Linked DNA regions of Homo sapiens. The protein of the gene in region 1 interacts with the protein of each later gene in a pairwise test. Each region holds a gene or a part of one and is shown in the gene's direction. Other genes may lie near its edges. The genes, in order: CDCA7L, ZNF620, ZNF438, TNNI1, TRIM42, NOL12 and PBX2.

Region 1 (3,500 bases):
CTACATGGTGCCATAATGCTGCTTACTGTTGACCAAGCTAAGTTCTAAGTATATAGTTGTGTTGGGGATGAGAGGGGCTGAACAACTAGCCCGTTCCCAGCAGAGTAAAGCAGGGGAAGTGGGATGTCACCAAGTCCACTGAGAAGTTGCAAGGAGCAGGTTGGGCAGGTAGCTTTTCACCACAGAACCACTCTTCTATGGTGACCAGCACTGGTTCTGAGACTTCTGAAGGAATGGAAGAGGTCTAGGAATTAAAACAACCTCAACAGTGTTAATTCACTCTACATTGTCTTCATTAGAACAATGAATGGAACCAGGTGAAATCTTTGTTACATATATTTGGTTTTTCTGTATATAATCAATTACTGTTAATCTGATCATTGTAGAGAATCATTGTTTGCTTCATAATTGTTTATCTACAGTTTTTTTTTAAATAGTTCTACCACTTATCCCTTTTAGCATTTTGGTAATTTTTTAATCTTTTCCTTTTAAAAAAAGAATGATGCAGTGATACTGTATATGCAAGCTTATATGTCTAATATAAATTACTTACAAAAATGGAATGCCTACTTTCGGATTATTTTTATCCTAAGAAACATTTTTACTTAGCTAAGGGAAATTTTCAGCACTGTATCCATCTGCATCTTTAAAATAAGCTATTTTCTTTATGATTTTTTTGGTGGCACTCATATAATTGTATAAACTAAAACGAATCCTAATTAAATTCTCTGGCATATTAATGCCTATTATTTGGTATTATTAGTTCACGTAGGAATATCTTCATAGATTACTTTGATTGATGAGAAATTAATCTATTTAAAGAATCAGACTTTTGGAGTTCTAAATAACCATCGAAATAATCTAGTTGAGCTTTTTCTTTTTTGAACATCCTGAAACTTGAGACTCACGTGTGCAAAATGAATTGTCCCAGGGTCACACCGCCTTGGATTAGCCTCCGAGTCGGGATCGGAACCTCATGCTCCAGGTCTTGATCATTCCAGGACTGTTTTCATAGTGTTGTGTTGTCCTTATATATAAGGAATAGGCTAGTGTTCATTCATATGAATGATGACATCAGCATCTCAGGTCTGGAGGTACAATCTTTACATGTGAGGTTAAAAGTATAACTGTTGTGGGTTATATAAACTATTCAAGTTAGGTTTCTTATGGTGGCAAAATGGAAGACTTGAGATAGGTGTTGGATGACCTAAACCTGGAGCCCTATTTTTGTAAGATTCTTTCTTTTGTTCTGAACTTCAGCTTGCCCAGTTATTGGCGGAATTGAACTCGATGCCAGATTTCTTCCCAGTACGAACCCCAACCTCAGCTTCTGTAAGTAGAACTCCTTATAATTATACCAATACTGATATATGGTGATCAGCCACCAGACGGCTTTTATTCGAGAGAGTCCCCAGTTGTCTCTGTCTGTGCTCTTGATTTCAGAGGAAGAAGACAGTGAGGCGGGCCTTCTCGGAGGGACAGATCACGCGGCGTATGAACCCAACCCGGAGTGCGCGGCCTCCTGAGAAGTTTGCTCTAGAGAACTTCACTGTCTCAGCCGCTAAATTTGCGGAAGAGTTTTACAGCTTCCGAAGAAGGAAGACAATTGGGGTATTTTCTGACTAATACATGAATTAGTTTTTGTCTGAGCTACCATCCCTCCAAACGTGAACGCACGTCACTGTCACCCCAGGGCTGGTTCTGACCCCGTGGGTCTGCGGCAGCTGAGAACTTGCATTTCTCTCTGCTTCCCAGGTGATGCCATTGCTCCTGAGATCACACTTTGAGAAGCAGCCCTGGTCTAAGCTGGAGGTCACAGAGAGAGTCTTTTATCCAAGCCGAGCTGAGAAGCAGCTCATTTGTTAGGACCCTGCTTTAATCTCTGCTGCAGGCAATAAAGAAAAGTGCAGTGATTCCTCCTTGCCTTTCTGTTTTAGGCATGAGGCGTTTCAAGCGCTTTCAGTTTGGAGGGAGCAACTGTGGACCCATTTGTGGGTTTGGCTGTTCAGTGTGGTTCACCTCTCCACAGAGTTTACAGCAAAGAACCAAAAACCTTGAGTTCCTCCTTTATGATTGTATCGCCTTGCTGAGAAGGAAGCTTGGCAGGTGGCAGGAGCTCAGTAAATAACTAAATGAAATGGCTGCAGGGAAATAGAAGAGGGACGGGGTTAACATTAATGGTGCTAGATCTTTGAGAGTTTAAAATATTTATAATTTTTTTATAACTGCTCAACACATCTCCATGTTCTGCTTGTGTTCATTGTGCAGGGGAAATGCCGGGAGTACAGACGACGTCACCGTATATCTTCTTTTCGGCCAGTGGAGGATATCACCGAAGAGGACTTAGAAAATGTTGCCATAACTGTTCGAGATAAAATCTATGATAAAGTTCTGGTAAAGTATACATTAATTGTCATTCTTATTGGGAGTCGAAGGCATTGGTATTGAAATCTCACTTGTTTTTAAACTCTATCAGGGCTTATGCCATCTCACCAAGGGCTCAGAGCCAGGCTCTGAATTGGAGGGTCAAAAGTCAGCTGTACCTGGGAAAGGGGAGGCAGCCTAGTGCAGTAATTCCCATCTGGACGGCGGTCTCTCTTAGGGATGCGTAGAATCTGGGGGAAGGGAACGGTATAGTTTAAAAGGGATTTTTATATGTAACTGTTAATGGTTTAAGCATATAGTTTTATGTTCTAAATATTGAAAAAAGTATATTTGGGGGGTAATATAACCATAGAAATTAAAGTTTGGCAGAATATCTTTGGTAGGAAATGGGTTAAATTTCTTCTAAATGGTGATTTAGAGGGAGGCTTTGCGTTCTGCATTTTTTTTGTGTTTTTCTGGATATGTAACGGGACACTGTCAAGTTTTAAATTTAGTTGCCAATATTTAAAAAAAAATAGATCTCACATTGAAGGTATCCAGGTCTGCAGAGCTAGGCTGGGGCCGAGGTGATGCCACCCAAGGCTCATTGCCCCTCAGTCACCTGTCACCTTTCAGGGGCTCTGCCACCCCTGCCTCAAGCTTTTCTCTGGTCTCTCTTCCTGACAGCCTGATCATTTCATTCCTTCTGGGTCTCTGCTCAGCCTCATCTGACCTAATATGTTTCTCTGGCCACAGACCTGTGATGGTTACATTCTAGAGCAGTGGTCCCCAACCTTTTTGGCACCAGGGACTGGTTTTGTGAAAGACAGTTTTTCCATGGATTTGGGGGGCAGGAAGGGGATGGTTTCAGGATGAAACTGTTCCACCTCAGATCATCGGGCATTAGATTCTTATAAAGGGTGCACAACCTAGATCCCTCACATGTGCAATTCACAATAGAGGGTTTGTGCTCCTATGAGAATCTAATGCTGCTGCTGATCTGACAGGAGGCAGAGCTCAGGCGGTAATGCTCGCCCGTCCGCTGCTCACTTCCTGCTGTGCAGCCCGGTTCCAAACAGGCCACAGACTGGTTCTAGCCTGGGGGCTGGGGACCCCGGTCTAGAGACAATGCTGTG
Region 2 (3,500 bases), on another chromosome or scaffold:
TTAAGCAGATAGTAGGTTCTTATTTGCTTAAAAGTCCAATATGACAATGTTTGCCTTTTGGGATGTTTAGATTATTTACATTTGATACCATTATTGATATGGCTGGATCTGGGCCTGTCATCTTTCTACTTGTTTTGTAATGGTCCCATCTGTTCTTTGTTTCCTTTTATTCTCTTTTTCTATTTTCTTTCTTTTCTTTTTTTTCTTTTGTTTGAGACAGAGTCACTGTGTCACCCAGGCTGGAGTGCAATGGTATGATCTCGGCTCATTGCAATTTCTGCTTTCTGGGTTCAAGCGATTCTTGTGTCCAGCCTCCCACGTAGCTGGGATTATAGGCACACACCACCATGCCTGGCACATTTTTTGTATTTTTAGTAGAGATGGAGTTTCATCATGTTGGCCAGGCTGGTCTCGAACTCTTGGCCTCGAGTGATCTGCCCACCTCAGCTTCTCAAAGGGCTGGGATTACATGCATGAGCCACCGTGCCTGGCTCTTTTTTTTCCTATTTTCCATAGGATTAATGGTGTGTAAATATCAGGCATCGTTCTTTTCAGTCTTTCCAAATGATCCTTTCTCTGGCCTTGGTTAGTTTTCCCACACCCATGTACTGATCTGTATTTTGTTGAATACTCTAAAGGGACCTTCTGCTGATAATTGAGATTCCATCTCTATGCAGCCCTCTCCTCTCTGGCATTCTGTCCTATAAACTCAAGCTGCCTTGGTCTCTTCAGACTCTACAAGGAAATATGCCAGGTTCTGCCTCAGTTCCCCCTTCCTGTGTTGCAGCCTGGAAATTCCTCAGGGTAGTAGCTTAGGGAATTATAGGGCTCACTTCTTTTCTTTCCTGTTTCTCAGGGATTGTTGTCGTTTTTTGCATGATATCTTGAAAATTGTTTTATATAATTTGTCTGGTTATTTTGTTTCAGGCAGGAGGGGAAATCCAGCCCCTGTGATTCCACCTAGATAAGAACTGGAAGTTTTCCCTTAGCATTTTTTTTTTTTTGAGACAGTCCCACTGTCACCCATGCCAGAGTACAGTAGCACGATCACGGCTCACTGTAGCCTCAACCTCCCCTAGGCTCAGGTGATCCTCCCACCTCAGTCTCCCGAGTAGCTGGGAGCACCACCTTGCATGGCTAATTTTTGCATATTTTGTAGAGACGGGGTTTCACCATGTTGCCCAGGCTGGTCTCGAACTTCTGAGCTGAAGCAATCTTCTCACCTTGGCCTCCCAAGGGGCTGGGATTACAGGTGTAATCTGTAATCCCTGCATTTTCAAAAACATTACCCTTTTACTTTTGGTGTTTAGTCTGTTGCCATCTCGACTTCCCAGTCTTCGTGTGTGTTGTTTTTCCTTCTCTGAAAGCCTGTAGGATCTGTTGTGTATTCTCATTTTTCTGAGATGTCTCAGTTACATGCCTATGTGTAGATATTTTTCATTCATTGTCCTAAATACTTTGTTGGTCCTTCCTTCTCTATGTTGCTTTTAAGGAGATAGAATATTTTACCAAGTTATAAACAACAGTGCACATTTACAAAATCCTTAGCTCATCCTTAGTTCTGTGGTGTGAATTGGGCCCCTTTTTGTTTGCTTCCCCTTCTGCCAGAAGTTGAGTTTCATCTTTGTCTGCTTTTCTAGTCTAGTTATCATTCATTCTCTTTCTGCCTTCTAAAATTCTGTTTATACCTCTAGTTGGCTTTGATTCTTCTCTCTCTCTCTTTTTTTTGAGACAGGGTCTCACTCTGTCACCCAGGCTGGCGTACAGTGGTGCAAACACAGCTCACTGCAGCCTCGACCTCCCCGAGCTCAGGTGATCCTCCCATCTCAACCTCCCAGGTAGCTGGGACTACAGGCATGCACCACCACACTTGGCGAATTTTTGTATTTTTTGTAGAGACGGGATTTCACCCTGTTGGCAACATCGCCAGGCTGGTCTCAAGCCATCCGCCTGCCTTGGCCTCCCAAAGTGCTAGGATTACAGGCGTGAGCCACTGTGCCCAGCCTGCTTTGACTCTTCTCTTGGGCTATTATGTTACTATCACTTTAATGGGGTTAGGGAGAGAGTGAAGATCAGTACAAAAGTGTTATTCACTGTGTTTATACAGATGTCCCCTGTGCATGTGCACACAAAACCCACACTGGGGAAAGGAGCCCAGAGGAACAGATGGGCACACAGAGCAGGGCACAGTGGAGGCAAGCAGAGATCAGCAGATGAAAATAGAGCTGTTTGCTGGGGATGACCACAAAGGGGTGCAATGACCCTTGGACTCCCCTGTTGGTGCGGGCAAAGATGGCTGAGGGCTGGCCTCATGGTGGAGTGCTGGATAACTGTCCTTGGCAATACCACTAGACCCAGTAGATCTCTGCCCCACTACTTAGCCTGATCCTCTGCCCTCACACAGGGTTTGAGCAGGAACTTGTTGTTTTAGGAACCAGTGACCTTTGAGGATGTGGCTGTGTACTTCACCCAGAATGAATGGGCCAGCCTGGACTCTGTGCAGAGGGCCCTGTACAGGGAAGTGATGCTGGAGAATTATGCAAATGTGGCTTCCCTGGGTAAGACATTTCTTCTTGTTTTTGGCCTCTGCCCTTTAAGCATCCTGGCTTCTTTATTCCTTAGAACTTTGTGGGGTTTTTTTCTTTTTTTCTTTTTTTTTTGAGACAAGAGTCTCCCTCTGTCGCCCAGGCTGGAGTGCAATGGCGCAATCTCGGCTCACTACAACCTCCACCTCCCAGGTTCAAGCGATTCTTCTGCCTCAGCCTCCAAAGTAGCTGGGATTACAGGTGGGCGCCACCACACCCGGCTAATTATTGTATTTTTAGTAGAGATGGGGTTTCTCCATGTTGGCCAGGCTGGTCTCGAACTCCTGGCCTCAAGCGATCCTCCTGCCTCAGCCTCCCAAAGTGCTGGGAAGACATGTGTGAGCCACCGCTCCTGGCAGGAGAACTTTGTGGGGTTTCTAATAACTCTCTGTTGCCCTGAAGGCTGAGCTGCCTGGAAGTTTCTGGGTGGAGAGAGCCCTGCGTTCCCAGGTTTTGAAATCACCTGTCCCTCCAACCCTGGGAGGGGCTGTACCCAAAACATGGGGGGGAAAGGAGCTCTTGGGAGCACAGCAAAGCCCCTTGTGTCTTCCAAGTTCTCTGAAGAAAACTTGAGATTCCCTTATGTGAGCGTGGGATTATTCTGGGACTCTGTGCCACTTTGTGGGAAATTTCTGTCCTCCAGCAGCATAGATTAAGTTTCTCCCTGACTCACCTTGTCTCTCACTACCTGGCTCAGCAGATAAAGATAAAGGGGGCTGCAAGAGGATCCTGGTTCCTGATTCCCCTTACCTTTTCCTGTTTCTTTCTCCCTGGGCAGCATTCCCATTCACCACGCCTGTTCTGGTCTCCCAGCTGGAGCAAGGGGAACTGCCATGGGGCCTCGATCCCTGGGAACCTATGGGCAGGGAGGCTCTCAGAGGTATCTGTCCAGGTGAGCATGAGAACCCACTAGCT
Region 3 (2,734 bases), on another chromosome or scaffold:
TGCTGACAGCAGGGAGAAGCCAGGCAGCAGGAGCAGGTGCTTCTTGAGCCCGTGGGGGGAAAGGGGCCTTCCTGGACCCCTGAGAGTGCAGAGATGCCTGGATCTGCAGCCACAGCAGGGTAGCTACAGTGATGCCTGGGAGGGCAGGAGCGCTCCTGCCTGCTCCCAGCTTCCAAGAGCACAGGGGTGCCTGGGTCACAGCTGCAGCTTGGGCAGCTGCAGGCAGTTGTGCCTGGTAAGCTCCCACACCGTCAACTTGGAAAGGGCAGGGCTCGTGCTTGTCCCCAGCTCCCACTGGCTCCATGAAGTGTGGCACCACCCCTGGCCCAGCTCTGCCTCAGGGCCCCTCTCTACCCACTCCTGCATGCCCTAGTGTGCTGTTTTCCCCTGCCAGCAGGTGACTCAGCCTGGCCCCATCGCAGTGGCTCTCATGGCGGCAGGTTTCAGGGACTGCCCACCTCCTCTCCATGTTTTCCCAGCAGCAACAGCAGGCAAGGTGCAGGTGGTGCAGTGGCCCTGGCCAACCCTGCACAAATGAACCTGACACTCTCAGGACTAGCCCCACAAGTCCCGGCTGCACCTTCAGCTGGGTGCTCACTGGCTCCTTTCTGAATATGAAATCTTCTCCTCTTCCCCAAATGAAAACAGACGCTCTTGCCAAATGTAGTTTGGACATTGTACCTAAAAATCAAAATCTAACTCTAGGAAAAGAAGGAAGAAGTGAGGTTTCATGGTTCATTAGTGAAAGGCACAGAGGTCTTAAAGGGGACAGAAATGTCTAAGAAAAAGGAGAAACTCTAGAAAAGCAAGGAAGAAATAGGGTAGGCACCCTTTATTTTTACTGAACATGACAGAGTGAGCCAAAATTGAATAGAAGGTATTGGTGCTCAAGGTTAGGGAGAGCCACAGTGGGTAGGGTGGGACCGTTACCTTCAACAGAACCGAGGGTGTTCCCGTGCCCTTCACGCGCTCTTACGTGACTCTTCCACGTGATTGCTCCTGTCCCTGTGGTAACCAAAGACGAGTTAGCTCGCCTGGGACAGATGCGTGAAGAGGACTGTTGACTAAATGAACCCTGGTAGCTGGAGAAATGTGTGGCCACAAGCAGGAGTGACAATTAGTATTCACCACGGTCCTTGCAGAAGGTCTTCCCAGGTGCTCTCTGTTTACCCCAGCCCTTGTCTTTCTCGTCAGTGTTATGTTTTAGATCCCTGAAGGCTGACAGCTGAGAGGAAAGATTCCAATTGCATTTTTCCATGAAATCTTATCTTCATTATTATTGGCCTTTTCAGGGAAAACAAGTCCAACCTGGAAGAAGACTTCCTTCTAAACCAGGCAGACGAAGTCAAATTACAAATCAAATGTGGTCGTTGTCAGATTACTGCTCAGTCTTTTGCGGAAATAAAATTTCATTTACTTGATGTTCATGGAGAGGAAATTGAGGGCAGGCTACAAGAAGGGACCTTCCCAGGAAGCAAGGGGACTCAGGAAGAGTTGGTGCAGCACGCTAGCCCCGACTGGAAAAGGCATCCTGAGAGAGGGAAGCCGGAGAAGGTTCATTCCTCCTCCGAGGAATCACATGCATGTCCAAGACTGAAAAGGCAGCTCCACCTTCATCAGAATGGCGTGGAAATGCTCATGGAAAATGAAGGACCCCAGTCAGGAACCAACAAGCCAAGGGAAACCTGCCAGGGCCCTGAGTGTCCTGGCCTCCACACGTTTCTCTTGTGGTCCCATTCAGGCTTTAACTGCCTGCTTTGTGCAGAGATGCTGGGACGGAAAGAGGACCTCCTCCACCACTGGAAGCACCAGCATAACTGTGAGGACCCTTCCAAACTGTGGGCTATTTTAAATACGGTCTCCAACCAGGGAGTGATCGAACTTTCCAGTGAAGCTGAGAAATGAGACCCCAAGGCAGCCTGGGGTTAAGGAGAGAGCTCTGCCGCCACCTTCCTTCAGAGCTTCGTGCTTTATGGTGGTGCTTAGTCACAAAGATCAAACAACAGGATTGGTGTGAGTGAACAGAAATGATTTTTGTACATGGTTTTATTTTCTTAACGAAATAAAATATAAGCTCTCGAAGCATATTTTTCTAACTATATGCAGTCTTATTTTAAAATACGTACTGATTCTTAATATCTTAGACTTTCAGAATAAATAAAAAGATCAAAATTTGAAGATTGAAATTTAGCAGAATATAGGCTGTTCTTCAAATACAGCTCTCAGTGAAAACATGCATGTGTCCTTCCTTTTGTTCAGATGTTTTCTGCTTATATAGATTGACAAATGTCAAAAATGTCCAGGCAGCAAAACCCTTTTAATCTCAACCATAGTATCAAGTTAGATGGTAAATGCTGATATTTATTAAATTCTCTGGTTTATTTGAATATGATATAGAGCAGTATTTTAATAAGATTGTCATCTACAATAATTTAAAATCCATGTTTTCAGGACTCAGATTTTTGTTTCTTGTAATTTTGCTATTTTCTTAAATGCACATTTCATTGAAGATTAGTTGTTGGCAAGTCTTATAGCTGTAGTGTTCCATATCAAAATAATTTTTTAAAAAATTTAGTACTTCAGCTAATAAAAAGTCTACTTGCTTGGTAAAAAGTTATTTTCAAGTAGTCTTTGGGACCAGAAAATTTACAACCTGGAAAATGAACTAGATAGTTCAGTCCAGATGTGTAGGGGTCTCAACTGCTTTCCCTCACTCCCAAGTAACTTCAGAGGG
Region 4 (3,500 bases), on another chromosome or scaffold:
TCCTCTGGATCAGGTCCTTTCTCCATCCCACTACCTCCTGGGTCCAAAGCCTGGTGAGAGCATAGGGCCTTCTGGGGTGGAAGGGGGGTCTGGGGCAGCCTCTCTTCCCCCAACATACTCACTAGAGTGGCTCCTGTGAAGCAGAGACCAAAGTTCTGACTTTTCTTTTTCCTTTTTTTTTTTTTTTTGAGATGGAGTCTCGCTGTGTCACCCAGGCTGGAGTGCAGTGACGCGATCTCGACTCACTGCAACCTCCGCCTCCCAGGTTCAAGCGATTCTCCTGCTTCAACCTCCTGAGTAGCTGGGATTACAGGTGCGTGCCACCACACCCCGCTAATTTTTGTATTTTTAGTAGAGACAGGGTTTCACCATGTTGGTCAGGCTGGTCTCGAACTCCTGACCTCGTAATCTGCCCACCTCGGCCTCCCAAAGTTCTGGGATTACAGGTGTGAGCGACCACATCCGGTCAAGTTCTGACTTTTCAGGGCAGTGGGATGGTGACTTCTGAGCTAAGCCTGCAAGGGAAGTGGCTGTTCCCAGACCTGGGGTCCCTTGGCTTTTCGACCACCCTAGCACTGGCCCTAGGAGGGGCTGAGTTATCAGAGCAGCAACCCTTCTACCCACCCTACTGAGTCCCCATTCTACCTTCGAATCCCATGTATTATCTTCCATAAGTGCCAGAAATTGGTACAAAGTGCAGTGCCAGCTGCTCCCCAGGGCATGGTCTGGCTCTCTGGGCTGCTGGGCTGCCAGCCCCTTTCAGAAAGCATGGCAGTGGGAACCAGCAACTTGGGCTACCTTAGGGGAAGCAGCACTCTGCCCAGGGTTCTTGCTATAAATAGGTCAGTGGGCAGAGAGGCAGATGTGTGCAAAAAGCACAACCCCAATCACACACAGAAACCCGTAGGCACGGACACACCCAGTCTCAATGCACGAAGTTGGAGAACCTGACAGGGCTGGTCCAGGCCACAGAGGATGGGGTTAGGCTTCATGCCTTCATGCCCAGGCAGCCACAGAAACCCACTCTTCCCCGCCTCACAGGGCTCCTCCGGTTGGCCTGGATCCAAAGCGATCTCCTTGTTTCACCTCTTTCCAGCTCTTCCCTAGAGCCTGGCCCCAAGTTCCAGAGTCAAATCCCAGTTTTGCAGTCAACTATTAACCTGGGGCCCTGGCAGATTGGGGTATCCACCCAGTCATGTAAAGGCAGGAGACCTGCTCTGGGCCTGACTCAAAGCAAACACGTGGGTGCAGAAGACCCATGGGAGGAGGAGGTGGGGCCCACTCAACACACCTAAGCCAGTGGCCCTCTAGGAGGGGCAGAAGAGCCAACCAGAGGGTTCCTGGAGGTCATCGGGTTCCTCCTTCTGCTTCCAGGCAGCAACAGACCTAATTCATCTCCTGTGAGGATGGAGCAAGGGCGAATATAGGCATAGACATATCTGGAGCGCAAGGATTGAGAGGCCCTGTGGACAAGGGGAAGGAGAGCTTGGGGGTGGGAGAGGGATCTATGGAAGGGGCTGTTGTAGCCAAGAATGGGGCCTGGGCTGGGGGCCTGGCCTCTGGAGAGCCCTGATTCTACTCCAGTCTTCTCTCACCATGGAGACAACACCAGTAGAGCTGGGAGCTGGGGCCTGCCACTGAGTAACAGCTCACACATGTAGCACACTTATGCGTCAGGCACCAGCATGTACACCTTAATTTATTTAACTTTCACAACAACCCTAGGAGAAAGGTACAGCTACTATTCTCATGGTACAGTGGGGAAAACTGAGGCACAGAGAGGTTAGGGACTTTTCATGATCACACAGCTAATAAGTGGTGGTCCCAGGATTCAACCCAAGAAGTCTGTTAGAATCCATACTCTTATCGACTATTTTAATAACAGCATTTCAATAATAGTAATATGTGATGTTAAATGCTTTATCTGAGTTATATCATTGCATTCTCACAAAAATGGTACATTTGTTAGCTCAAATTTACAGATGAGGAAATGGAGGCCTGGAGAGTTCAAGTAGCTCACTCTAAGTTACAGGGTTTGCTAGCTGCAGACTGGAGACTAGATCTCAGGTCACTCTGCCTTGGGGTTGCCCTTTTCTGAGATCAGACTGGCCTTAACAGAGCCCAACTTTCTTGGAAGGACACAGCTGGGGGTCGAGGGTCCTGCATATGCACCTGGGGAGTCCCCACACACCCGCACCAAAGGGGAAACATTCAAAGGAGATGCAGGTGACATACAGATGGGCTAAGGTGAGGCCTTCCTCCAACATGGGGCCCTGGCTGAGAGTGGAGGGATAGGGTGCTACTTGGGGGATATCTATTACTAATCAGCACACAATAGCTGGGTGGGCACCCCCTCTCTCTGCAGCTGGTGGAGATGGGCCTGGTGCTCCTCTCTGCTTGGTAGGAATGACCAGGGCAGGATGCCACCTGCTACACTCTTGCCTGTCCCAGAGCCCTTGGGAGACCAGCTGTTGCTCCCACCTTTCCCCACAGGGTGCCCGGTCCCCACGGCGCAAGGAGGCCAAGCTCAGCTGTGTGTCTGAGCCCACTCAGCAGCAGGCATGATCAGGGCAGGGCCCAGCGCTAAGGGCTGCTGGGGCTAAAGTGCCTTGCTGAAGGAGGGGCAGAGTTAAACATTAGCCACAATGGCCCCCCGCGAAGTGAGTCATACTCCCCACAAGTCTCTGGGCTGGGCAGCCGGGGGCGGGGGGGTTAGCTTCGTTCCAGGTGGGTGACCAAGCTGCGGAAGCCCAGGACAGTTCGCTGGGACCAGTGCTAATGGCAGCTTCTGCTCCTGACCCCCATCAGGTCTCTTTCCTCAGACATCCCCAAAGCTTGTCTGCCTGTGGGTCTTTCATTAAAGGTGACGGGCAAGGGTTTTCTCTTCCTTCCAAGACACACTTCTAGGCTGGCTTGTGGGTCCCCTGAGACGAAGGCTGAGCAGGGTGAGCCTCGAAAACCCCATAGCACTGGCCCAGAGCACTGCGGTCAATGTCCGAAGGACCAGAGAGGGAGGGTGACTTGCTCAAGGTCACAAACCTAACTGGAGCTAGGAAGTAGGTCCCCAGACTCCCAGTCTGAGGAAATTGGATGTGGACAGGGCTTTGGTCTCCTGGCCAGAGGCAAACGCCCAGGGATCTGAACAGGCTGCCCATCTCTGGCCTCAACTCAGCACCCCAACTGGCTCCAGTGCCAACCATTGGCCTCTCTCACTGGTTGGCACAGGCTGGGTGAGCCTGGCCCTTTGCCCTGGGTTCAGGAGAGAGGTATGGCTTTGCCTGGCAGTCAGGGGAGGTGTTCCAACCTGGGAGCCCCTGGGGGAGGAGCGTGTGTGTGAACGCTTGTGCCTGTTCATCAGAAGGGGTGAGCATGGTGTGTATGCGTGGGCATGCAGAATGCAGGGTGATGACCTGTCTGCCCGCCCTGAGTGTCACAGACACCTGTGTGTCCCCTGTACTAGTGCCTCCCAGATGCTCTTCTCCTGACTGGCTCTTTGTGAC
Region 5 (3,500 bases), on another chromosome or scaffold:
TTTGCTAATGACCACATCACCCCGGACCTCTCAGTAGCTTCAGGAATACCTTAATTTTTCTCAATGGCCACATACCTGGAAACCTTGCTTGTCAATTGACATTTATTTAATTTTGGAACCACCACCAGGGAAGACTTCATATTAAAGGAACCCTGCAGGAACCACATTACCAAGAAAATGGTAGAACTGTTGGTTCCAAAAGGGTTTTCTGAAGGTGGGACTCACTGCCTCCCTAGGCCAGGGCTTGGCTGGATTCTTTGGGTCCTCAGCATGGTGAAGGCACTGCCGCCTACAACCTACTGTGCCTTCCATCCCTCTGTAGAGAACCTCGTCCTTAATACAGGAGAAACTTAGGATAGTTTTCTGAGTCCAGGGCACCTAAAATTTGAGCAGACAACAAAGCTCAATTCAAGGTGGGGGGAAAATGCCTGTCCAAATTCCAGGAAACCCAGCAGTTGGAAAGGGAAAAAGGGATAATTGGTAAATTAGATATTAGCTGTAAGTAAAGAATTTAACCTTTCATCCTTGCTGAAGAAACAGACACACAAAAATTTTTTAACCAGGGTTCAAACTTGTTCGTGAGCATTTGATTCACTTTTCTGGGAGGTACCATAAATTGGCATTCTAAACAGATCTCCAGGTTATTCAAAAGCAAGTGATCTGGGAATACACATTGAGAAACTGGGGGACCTAGGGAGAAGATCCATTCTAGAAGCTTTACTAAAAACTGATGCCCCTGTCCCATCCACATAGAGGTGCAGGCTCAGCAAGATGGAATTTTAAAAAACTCCTCATGTGATTCTATGGTGCAGCCAAGGTCGAGAACCACTGAAATAAAGGGAGCTCAAAAGTTTAGGTCCCTGCCACTCAAAGTATGGTTCAAGGACCAGTAGCATTGGCATCACCTGAGAGCTTGTTAGAAATGCAGAATCTCAGGACCCACCCCAGGCCTAGTGCATCAGAATCTGCATCTTTATCATGATCCCAGGAGATTCTCTGGGTTCGATTCTAAACCTCACTGAAAACTGCCTCACCTGGCTTCCTGAGCCCCAACACAGGCCCATTGATTCAGAATCTTAGCAGATGAGTCCAAGAGAAGAGTTTTTTTTTAACACTCTCTCAGGTTATTCTGGTACTCAGAGAGGGCTGAGAGCCACAGCTGAAGCAATTAAGAACCTAGTTTGGAGCTAGACAAATAGAATTAGGGACAGAGCCTAGTTTCTCCCATTTACCTGATGTGTAACACTATACAGTCACTTAACTTCCCAGGGCCTCAAGCTTTTTCATCTATAAGTGGAAACAATATCTTCATTGTAAGAAGATATATGTGATAGATAAAAACATATGGATCTGGTCCATAAAAAGTGTTTAATAAATAACAACTAGTTTTAAGTGTATTGCCTAAAAGAGACCTTGATTTGACTTTGCTTTAAAATCAGCTCTTGCAGAGGTTTCATATTTGCAGAGGTTTGGGGTGGGACATTTGTGGCTTCCTCTGTCTTTTTTCTCCTCCTGGAGATGCCTTTTTCCTCTCATCTAAGAAATTTTTATCCTGCTTCTCAGGACTTTGCTCTACATAAGCCTAATCAATCCCTAATACAGCAAGAAATTTCCTATCCAAGTATCTTTAACAGTAGGTAACTATTGAATAGTCAAAGAAAATAATGCGCAAAGTAGAATTCTGGCTGCCACAGTCACAGTGCATTGGGGAAGGCAAGAAGCACTTCTCAGCACTGAAATCGGACCCTGGTAGTTTCCCTTTCAGTCTCACCTGCATCACCTCATCTTTTCTGAGCCAGTGTGAGGAAGGAGGTGGCAAGAAAACACTGGGGCTTCAGGGAGTTAGCCAGAGAGTGACACTGCTGGCATTCACCAATGAGTTGTTAGAAGACAGGAAAGAATGGCTTTTACTCAACAAATACATTTGCTCACCTCTACACACCATAGTCATAGTGGTAATGTGGTCCCTGTTCTCATGATCTGACAGAACACTAGGGTTTCCCATATTCAAGTGCACACCCTTGTTACAACGACCACCACTCACAGAAGTCCAGCTTCCTATGAACCCAGGATAATGTTATGAACCAAGTGCAAAAATAGCTAGTCATCCCCACTCCTGAGTAAAATTTGGTAAGGATTATTGCCCATCAATTCACTGAAGAGTTTACCTTTCATGAGAAGAACCTTACCCGTAGCATAGACCACAGAAGGGTGACATTCTTCAAATTGCTCCTTAATGCCTCAAATCCTTTAAAGCTAACAAAGGTATTCATTTCACCTTTCATATAAAGCTCATTTCACAGATAGAGATGTGCCACGTGCTTACCCTGCCATAGCATCCTTAAACTGTAGTATCTTTGGATTTATTCATACCTTGAGCACAGATGCCCTCTCATAATCATATCCATATTCTTAGTGCCTAAAAGATACATGGCATGTAACAGGGCTCCAGTAAATGTTTGTTGAATGACTGAGTGAACTTAAAATCCAAATGCCATATGAGGGGACACAGGGTAAACTGGTTTTCCTTGAAGTGTGACAGCAGACTCTTTTTTGAAAGGAGTGGGGGAAAGGCAAGGAGAAGTGACATAGCTGAACCACAAGAGGGACAAAGGGGGGAAAAGGGCATCTAAGAGAGCCACCTCAATGAAGGGAAGCTTTGCTGATTTCCCACTGTTGTATAGGGCTGGAGGCTTAGCGAATGATGCAAGACAACCTTTAGAAGTAGTCGGCAGAAACTTAGTTCTTCCTCTTACCACTGCAAAAGCTTAGGTTTCCTACAGGGAAAAGCAGGCACCAGTCATTTTGTGACTTCACCTCTTCTCAAGTCCAACTTGCAGACAACTGAAATCTGGTAAAAACCAATATCAAGGGTGGGCTTGAACTTCCAGTCTCAGACTCAAGGCCATAGGGATTACTGTTACAAGATAGAAATATCCCAGAGAAGGATCAGAGGGGGAAGAAGGGGAAGGGTGTACTAAGGAGGACCAAATTCATTTCATAAACCTATTCCAGCCTGTTTCAGCCCAACTACAAGTGCCTTCCCTCCCTCTTCATTCACCTCCTTGGAGCCTAGGGTAATTTGTTCTAGTTTGCTACTGACTTTGACACCTGGGGAGATGAAAATTTTAAAAGTAACTAACTTGGCATTTTTGCAGTCCGATATGAAATTGATAATGACCTAATGGAATTCAACATCTTAAAAAACAGCTTTAAAGCTGACAAGGAGGCAAAGCGAAAAGAGATCAGAAATGGCTTTCTCAAGTTGCGCAGCATTCTTCAGGAGAAAGAGAAGATCATCATGGAGCAGATAGAGAATCTAGAAGTGTCCAGGCAGAAGGAAATTGAAAAATATGTGTATGTTACAACCATGAAAGTGAACGAGATGGATGGTCTGATCGCCTACTCCAAGGAAGCCCTGAAGGAGACTGGCCAGGTGGCATTCCTGCAGTCAGCCAAGATCCTGGTGGACCAGATCGAGGACGGCATCCAGACCACCT
Region 6 (2,316 bases), on another chromosome or scaffold:
ACCACGCACAAGGGCAGGTTTTTGGGGTGGTGGAAATGGCCAGGGCCCATGGGTCTGTCTCCAGCAGTTAGCCCTGTGGCTGCAATAAAGTACAGTTCTCCCTGTGTTAAGATCCTAACCAGGGTTAAGGATCAGTGTGTCCGTTGCTAGAATCCAGAGCCCACCTGCTGCTCTGAAAAGCAGGCTCCTGAGGCCAGTGGGGGAGCAGTGCCCCCCATGCCCTTCACCGAGGAGCCTCTGTGCCTGTCCCTTGTCCTCGGCCCCAGGAGTCTCCTCAACTGACACTGAAGTGGTGGAAGCAGTTGAGTGCCAGGTCATCCCCCATCACCACACTGGGGCAGCGTCCCCAGGCTTCCAGCAGCTCCCAGGTGGGTCCCAACGTGGAAGGATTAATTAATTCTTTCTAAAGCAGTTGCAGCCGGGCTTGGTGGCTCACGCCTGTAATCCCAGCACTTTGGGAGGCCCAGGCGGGCAGATCACTTAAGGTCGGGAGCTCGAGACCAGCCTGGCCAACATGGTGAAACCCTGTCTCTACTAAAAATGCAAAAATTAGCCAGGTGTGGTGGCACACGCGTGTAATCCCAGCTACTTGGGAGGCTGAGGTGGAAGAATCACTTGAACCCTGGAGGCGGAGGCTGCAGTGAGCCGAGATCACGCCATTGCACTCCAGCCTGGGCAACGTTGTGACCTTGTCTCAAAAAAAAACTAAAAAATAAAGCAGTTGCATCTTGACTCGTACAAAAGTAGCCCCCACCAGAGTAGACCCTGCGGGTGCCAGCTAGAACTCCACAAGGGGCCATGTCTTCACACTCCTTCCAGATGGATGAGTTGATGGAAACCCTGTCCCTTCCTTGTCCCAGCTTGTCAGTCCTGGGCAGGAGAGAATTTCAGGTTGTGCCTTGGTTAGAGGAGCTGTGTTGGGTCCTAAACACTAGGACCACAAAGGGGAGTGAACTGTGTTCCCAGGGCTTGCTGACGCCCGTGGACTATGGAGTCAGGATGACAGGACAGTGCGGTGAGGGGCATCTGCGACAGGACTGCGGGCTCTACCCGCCCTGATGTGGGAGCTCCTGGAGTGGGGGTGAGCAGTGAGCCAGGGTCTGCAGGGCTGTCCTCTCTCCACAGCCAACAGCCAGGCCTTACAGTGGGGCAGGCTTAGTGACTGTGCCTCAGTTATGCTGTACCTGGGAGTGGGCAGGCCCTCTCCCATGTCACCATCAAAACCCACTGATGAAGGCTGGTGGGAGTCTGAGGGCTGCACCCGGGTATGGTGAGTTCCCCTCAGGGATTGTGCTGAGCGCCTTGGCCTGGCTTCTTGGCTCCGCCCACCTGCTCTCCCTGCCACCAAGTTGTCTTCCCCGGGTGGCATGTGCCACTTGGCTGCCTCGTGCCTGGGCACAGTGGTGCCTATTATGGGCCCTCCAGGTGGCTCTGGTGCTCAGCCTGCTGTGAGCAGGAACAGCTGAGTCCCAGGGGTTCTTGCACACAGCAGGGCTCGGGTTTGAATCCAGGCTCTGCTGCTTGGTCGCTGCATGAGCTTCTGCTGTGCTGACCTCTCTGGTTTGTCTCGTCATGTGTAAGGTGACACCAGATACCTACCTCTTAGGGCTGCCCCGAGACTAAAATAAGACCATGTGCATGAACCACTTACCAAAGTGCCTGTTGCTCTCCAGGTGTGCCTACCGCATGTTGCCGCTGCTGTTTCTGCTGGGACGTCTGACTCCAGTTCCTTCTCCCCTCTCCAGTGACAAGGTCATTTACAACTTACATTTACAATTTATAGTGTTTACCAGTATTAAATTCTCAGCCACTCCTTTCCATGTGTGCCTTCATTTCTTCCAGCAGACCAGGGAAGTTGAGTCACAGTGATTTGACCAATTCTAGGATCAGGGTGGTGGATTCAGAGCCCTCTGGAGAACTTGTCTTTTCTCCAGGAGCCCCTCACCATTGCTGTGGAGGCACCTGGGCTCCTTCCTCCTGTCGCTTTCCAGAGTTGGGCCTCTGAGAGATGTATGAGGAAGAGTTAAGTTTAGCTGCATATACTCTAAAACAAAATTGAAAAACAACTGGCTTGTGTAAAAGAGTTCCCATCCCAAAGATGGGAGGTTCCCAGCCTGGAGCTGGGAAGGCTGGAGGCTGGGATGCCGGGCTTCTAACTCTATGCTGTGTTCTATGTTGTGTGCCATTTTCAACACATGGCCCCTGCCTCACAGCACAAGGTGGCTGCTTGAGCTGCAGCCATTATGTCTGCATTTCAGCCAGCAGGACAGAAAAGGGGATGAAGAACATGCCCCTCCTTTTGAAAACATTTAGGGC
Region 7 (2,970 bases), on another chromosome or scaffold:
TTCCTGCTTTTGTTCCCACTTCCTATCTAGGCAGGATCATAGCAGAGAGGGGGCCTTTTGGGGTGAGAGGGACCGAGCTGAGATAGGCTGGAGATGTCAGGGGACAGAGGCCATTCCAGTGATCTTAGTTCTGCCTTTCTTCCCACGGGTGGCCAAGGAACAGCCTGCTCTTTCTGTGTGTTGGAATGTTATTTTGTGGATAATTGGAGTATAGTAGCATGTCCCCACAAGAGTTGAGAGTTGTGGTTCATCCTCTACCATCACGGGCTCTATTACACTCTTCCCTCTCTGCCCCCACAAGGCTCTGGCGGCTCTTTCAATCTCTCAGGATCTGGAGACATGTTTCTGGGGATGCCTGGGCTCAACGGAGATTCCTATTCTGCTTCCCAGGTCAGATGCCCATCTCCTCTCGAATAGGGCTTTCCCCAACTCCATTTCCTCTACTTTAGGATACAAGACCTCTTTCCTCTGAGGCTTCTCTTCACTGTCATACCTTCCTCTGCTGCCTGCAGGTGGAATCACTCCGACACTCGATGGGGCCAGGGGGCTATGGGGATAACCTCGGGGGAGGCCAGATGTACAGCCCACGGGAAATGAGGGTGAGTGGATCCTGAAGCTCCTCTCTGTCCAGTTCTCACAGGACAGAGGGGCATTTTCCCTAGTAATGTTGTGCCCACACAGGGTTCCCAGGGCTTTCTCTGTTTTCTGTACTCTGTCTCTCCTTTCAGGCAAATGGCAGCTGGCAAGAGGCTGTGACCCCCTCTTCAGTGACATCCCCAACGGAGGGACCAGGGAGTGTTCACTCTGATACCTCCAACTGATCTTGCCCCTCAGGGTCACAGGGGTGGGGGCTCTCACAAGGCGACTTGAAGAGGACGCAGGCTTCCAGAGGACAAACCCCAATACAGGAGAAGCACAAGACAGAGAAGGGCCAATGGGGTCATCCCCTCCCTAACGAGACTCTCTGTGCTGGGGGTGCTAATTACATGGCAGGAAGAATGGGGCCTCTAAGGGGAGTGTGGGGTCTGTCTCTCCCTTTTTTCCATCTTTTTCCTCTCTCGCTTTCTTTCTTACACAGAAACATACACATACCGAGAAACCTATTTCTCAGACCCCTTTTTCTCCTCTGTCTTTCTCTCTCCCTCTCCCACACCTCACACACACATACTCCCACTTGCAACTATTCTGTTTCTCTCCTGGGCTCCCCCACTTTCCCTTCCCCACCCCACTTGTATGCTCTGGAATCTGTGGAGACGCCAGCCCTGCCCAATCAGAGATGCCAAAAATGGGGACATGACTTCTGGACAGAGGACATGGGCCACGCCCCCATGCATCCCCACCCCCGCCCCTCCGGACGGCTTACTTACCTCATACGCAGCTCATCTTAAACCAATAGAATCGCTCGGTGGACGAGAGTGTCTGACTCAGATATCTACCTCGGAGGGAGTTTCTGCTACTTTAGGGAATTATTGACTGGGCTTTGGGGTTGAACTTTTTTTTTTTTAAAGAAAGAAAAAGAAACCCTGGGATCCATCTGTTTTTTTTGTTGTTGTTGTTGTTTTTGTTGTTGTTGGTGGTGGTGGTGGTGGTGGTTCTTAATTTTTAATTTAGTTTGGGGAAGTAGCTTGTTTTTTTTTTTATAAATATGTTGATTTCTTGTCTTTTTTTTTTTTTATTTCTTACTTTCCCATATTAGGGGTGATAGCCAAAGGGGTTCTGGTAAGAGAAAGGGGGACAAACAGAACTGGTAAAGAGGCCCCCCTGGCTCCAGGCCTGTCCATCAGGAAGTAAATTTTACAGGGCACCAAGCTTTGCCCCCTAAAATCCCTTAGGTGTTCTTTGTTCATGCAGGCAGGTTTCTGCCGCATTTGATGTGGAGGCAGTGAAGGGCTTGCCCTGCTGGCCTCTCATCCCCCTTCTTCCCACAACCCTTGGGCAGGGCTGGACTCAGTAATTTTGAGGAAATTGAAGATGCCATCTTCCCCTGTGAGTGACATGTCTTTAATTTTTTAAAAAACTACTATTTGAAAATTGGAGGGGGAAGAATGGGAAGGGAGTTATTGCCAAATATGTTAAATATGGGTTGGGGTGCTTGTATATGTATCTTCCTCAATTTCCCCATAAATGAGGTATCTTTTTGTCACACCAAAATCAAGGGGTAGGGAGAGGGAGGAGGTTGCAAAAAGCCAGATGTGGGGGAAAAGTAACATCAACACTGTCCCATCCTCAGCCCTGAACTAGCTACCATCTGATCCCCTCAGACATTCTCAGGATTTTACAAGACTGTCAGAGTGGGGAACCCCTCCCATTAAAGATCCGGGCAGGACTGGGGACAGGTTGGAAGTGTGATGGGTGGGGGGGTGGGAGGCATGGGCCGGGGGCAGTTCTCTCCTCACTTGTAAACTTGTGTAGTTTCACAGAAAAAAAACAAAATGCAGTTTTAAATAAAGAAATTTCTTTTTTCCCTGGGTTTAGTTGAGAATTTTTTTCAAAAAACATGAGAAACCCCAGAAAAAAAATGATTTTCTTTCACGAAGTTCCAAACAGGTTTCTCTCCTGTTCCCCAGCCTTGCCTTCATGATGCAGGCCCAATTGCACCCTTGCAGACAACAGTCTGGCCTGAACCCTATTGATGCAACTTTGCGCAATCAAGATGGGGCTCCAGTGGGTCACCAGGCAGCCCTGATGGACTGATGGAATAAATAGGATCGGGGGCTCTGAGGGAATGAGACCCTAGAGGGTACACTCCCCATCCCCCAGGGAAGTGACTGTACCCAGAGGCTGGTAGTACCCAGGGGTGGGGTGATAATTATTTCTCTAGTACCTGAAGGACTCTTGTCCCAAAGGCATGAATTCCTAGCATTCCCTGTGACAAGACGACTGAAAGATGGGGGCTGGAGAGAGGGTGCAGGCCCCACCTAGGGCGGAGGCCACAGCAGGGAGAGGGGCAGACAGAGCCAGGACCCTGGA

Evidence for each region.
Region 2: the proteins of CDCA7L (region 1) and ZNF620 interact in binary tests that used the Homo sapiens proteins (3 or more experiments, as listed by UniProt).
Region 3: the proteins of CDCA7L (region 1) and ZNF438 interact in binary tests that used the Homo sapiens proteins (3 or more experiments, as listed by UniProt).
Region 4: the proteins of CDCA7L (region 1) and TNNI1 interact in binary tests that used the Homo sapiens proteins (3 or more experiments, as listed by UniProt).
Region 5: the proteins of CDCA7L (region 1) and TRIM42 interact in binary tests that used the Homo sapiens proteins (3 or more experiments, as listed by UniProt).
Region 6: the proteins of CDCA7L (region 1) and NOL12 interact in binary tests that used the Homo sapiens proteins (3 or more experiments, as listed by UniProt).
Region 7: the proteins of CDCA7L (region 1) and PBX2 interact in binary tests that used the Homo sapiens proteins (3 or more experiments, as listed by UniProt).

What each region holds. Positions count from the first base shown.
Region 1 is NC_000007.14:21,904,400-21,907,899, reverse strand, and holds part of CDCA7L (cell division cycle-associated 7-like protein), read left to right. Parts: intron 1-1,260; coding exon 1,261-1,332; intron 1,333-1,443; coding exon 1,444-1,611; intron 1,612-2,268; coding exon 2,269-2,394; intron 2,395-3,500. UniProt on the Homo sapiens protein: Plays a role in transcriptional regulation as a repressor that inhibits monoamine oxidase A (MAOA) activity and gene expression by binding to the promoter.
Region 2 is NC_000003.12:40,509,039-40,512,538, forward strand, and holds part of ZNF620 (zinc finger protein 620), read left to right. Parts: intron 1-2,431; coding exon 2,432-2,558; intron 2,559-3,363; coding exon 3,364-3,477; intron 3,478-3,500. UniProt on the Homo sapiens protein: May be involved in transcriptional regulation.
Region 3 is NC_000010.11:30,844,132-30,846,865, reverse strand, and holds the end of ZNF438 (zinc finger protein 438), read left to right. Parts: intron 1-1,292; coding exon 1,293-1,905; 3' UTR 1,906-2,234; downstream 2,235-2,734. UniProt on the Homo sapiens protein: Isoform 1 acts as a transcriptional repressor.
Region 4 is NC_000001.11:201,404,731-201,408,230, reverse strand, and holds part of TNNI1 (troponin I, slow skeletal muscle), read left to right. Parts: 3' UTR 1-3,500. UniProt on the Homo sapiens protein: Troponin I is the inhibitory subunit of troponin, the thin filament regulatory complex which confers calcium-sensitivity to striated muscle actomyosin ATPase activity.
Region 5 is NC_000003.12:140,684,564-140,688,063, forward strand, and holds part of TRIM42 (tripartite motif-containing protein 42), read left to right. Parts: intron 1-3,158; coding exon 3,159-3,500.
Region 6 is NC_000022.11:37,691,659-37,693,974, forward strand, and holds the end of NOL12 (nucleolar protein 12), read left to right. Parts: 3' UTR 1-1,816; downstream 1,817-2,316. UniProt on the Homo sapiens protein: Multifunctional RNA binding protein that plays a role in RNA metabolism and DNA maintenance. Participates in the resolution of DNA stress and the maintenance of genome integrity by localizing to sites of DNA insults.
Region 7 is NC_000006.12:32,184,233-32,187,202, reverse strand, and holds the end of PBX2 (pre-B-cell leukemia transcription factor 2), read left to right. Parts: intron 1-301; coding exon 302-390; intron 391-512; coding exon 513-599; intron 600-728; coding exon 729-821; 3' UTR 822-2,470; downstream 2,471-2,970. UniProt on the Homo sapiens protein: Transcriptional activator that binds the sequence 5'-ATCAATCAA-3'. Activates transcription of PF4 in complex with MEIS1.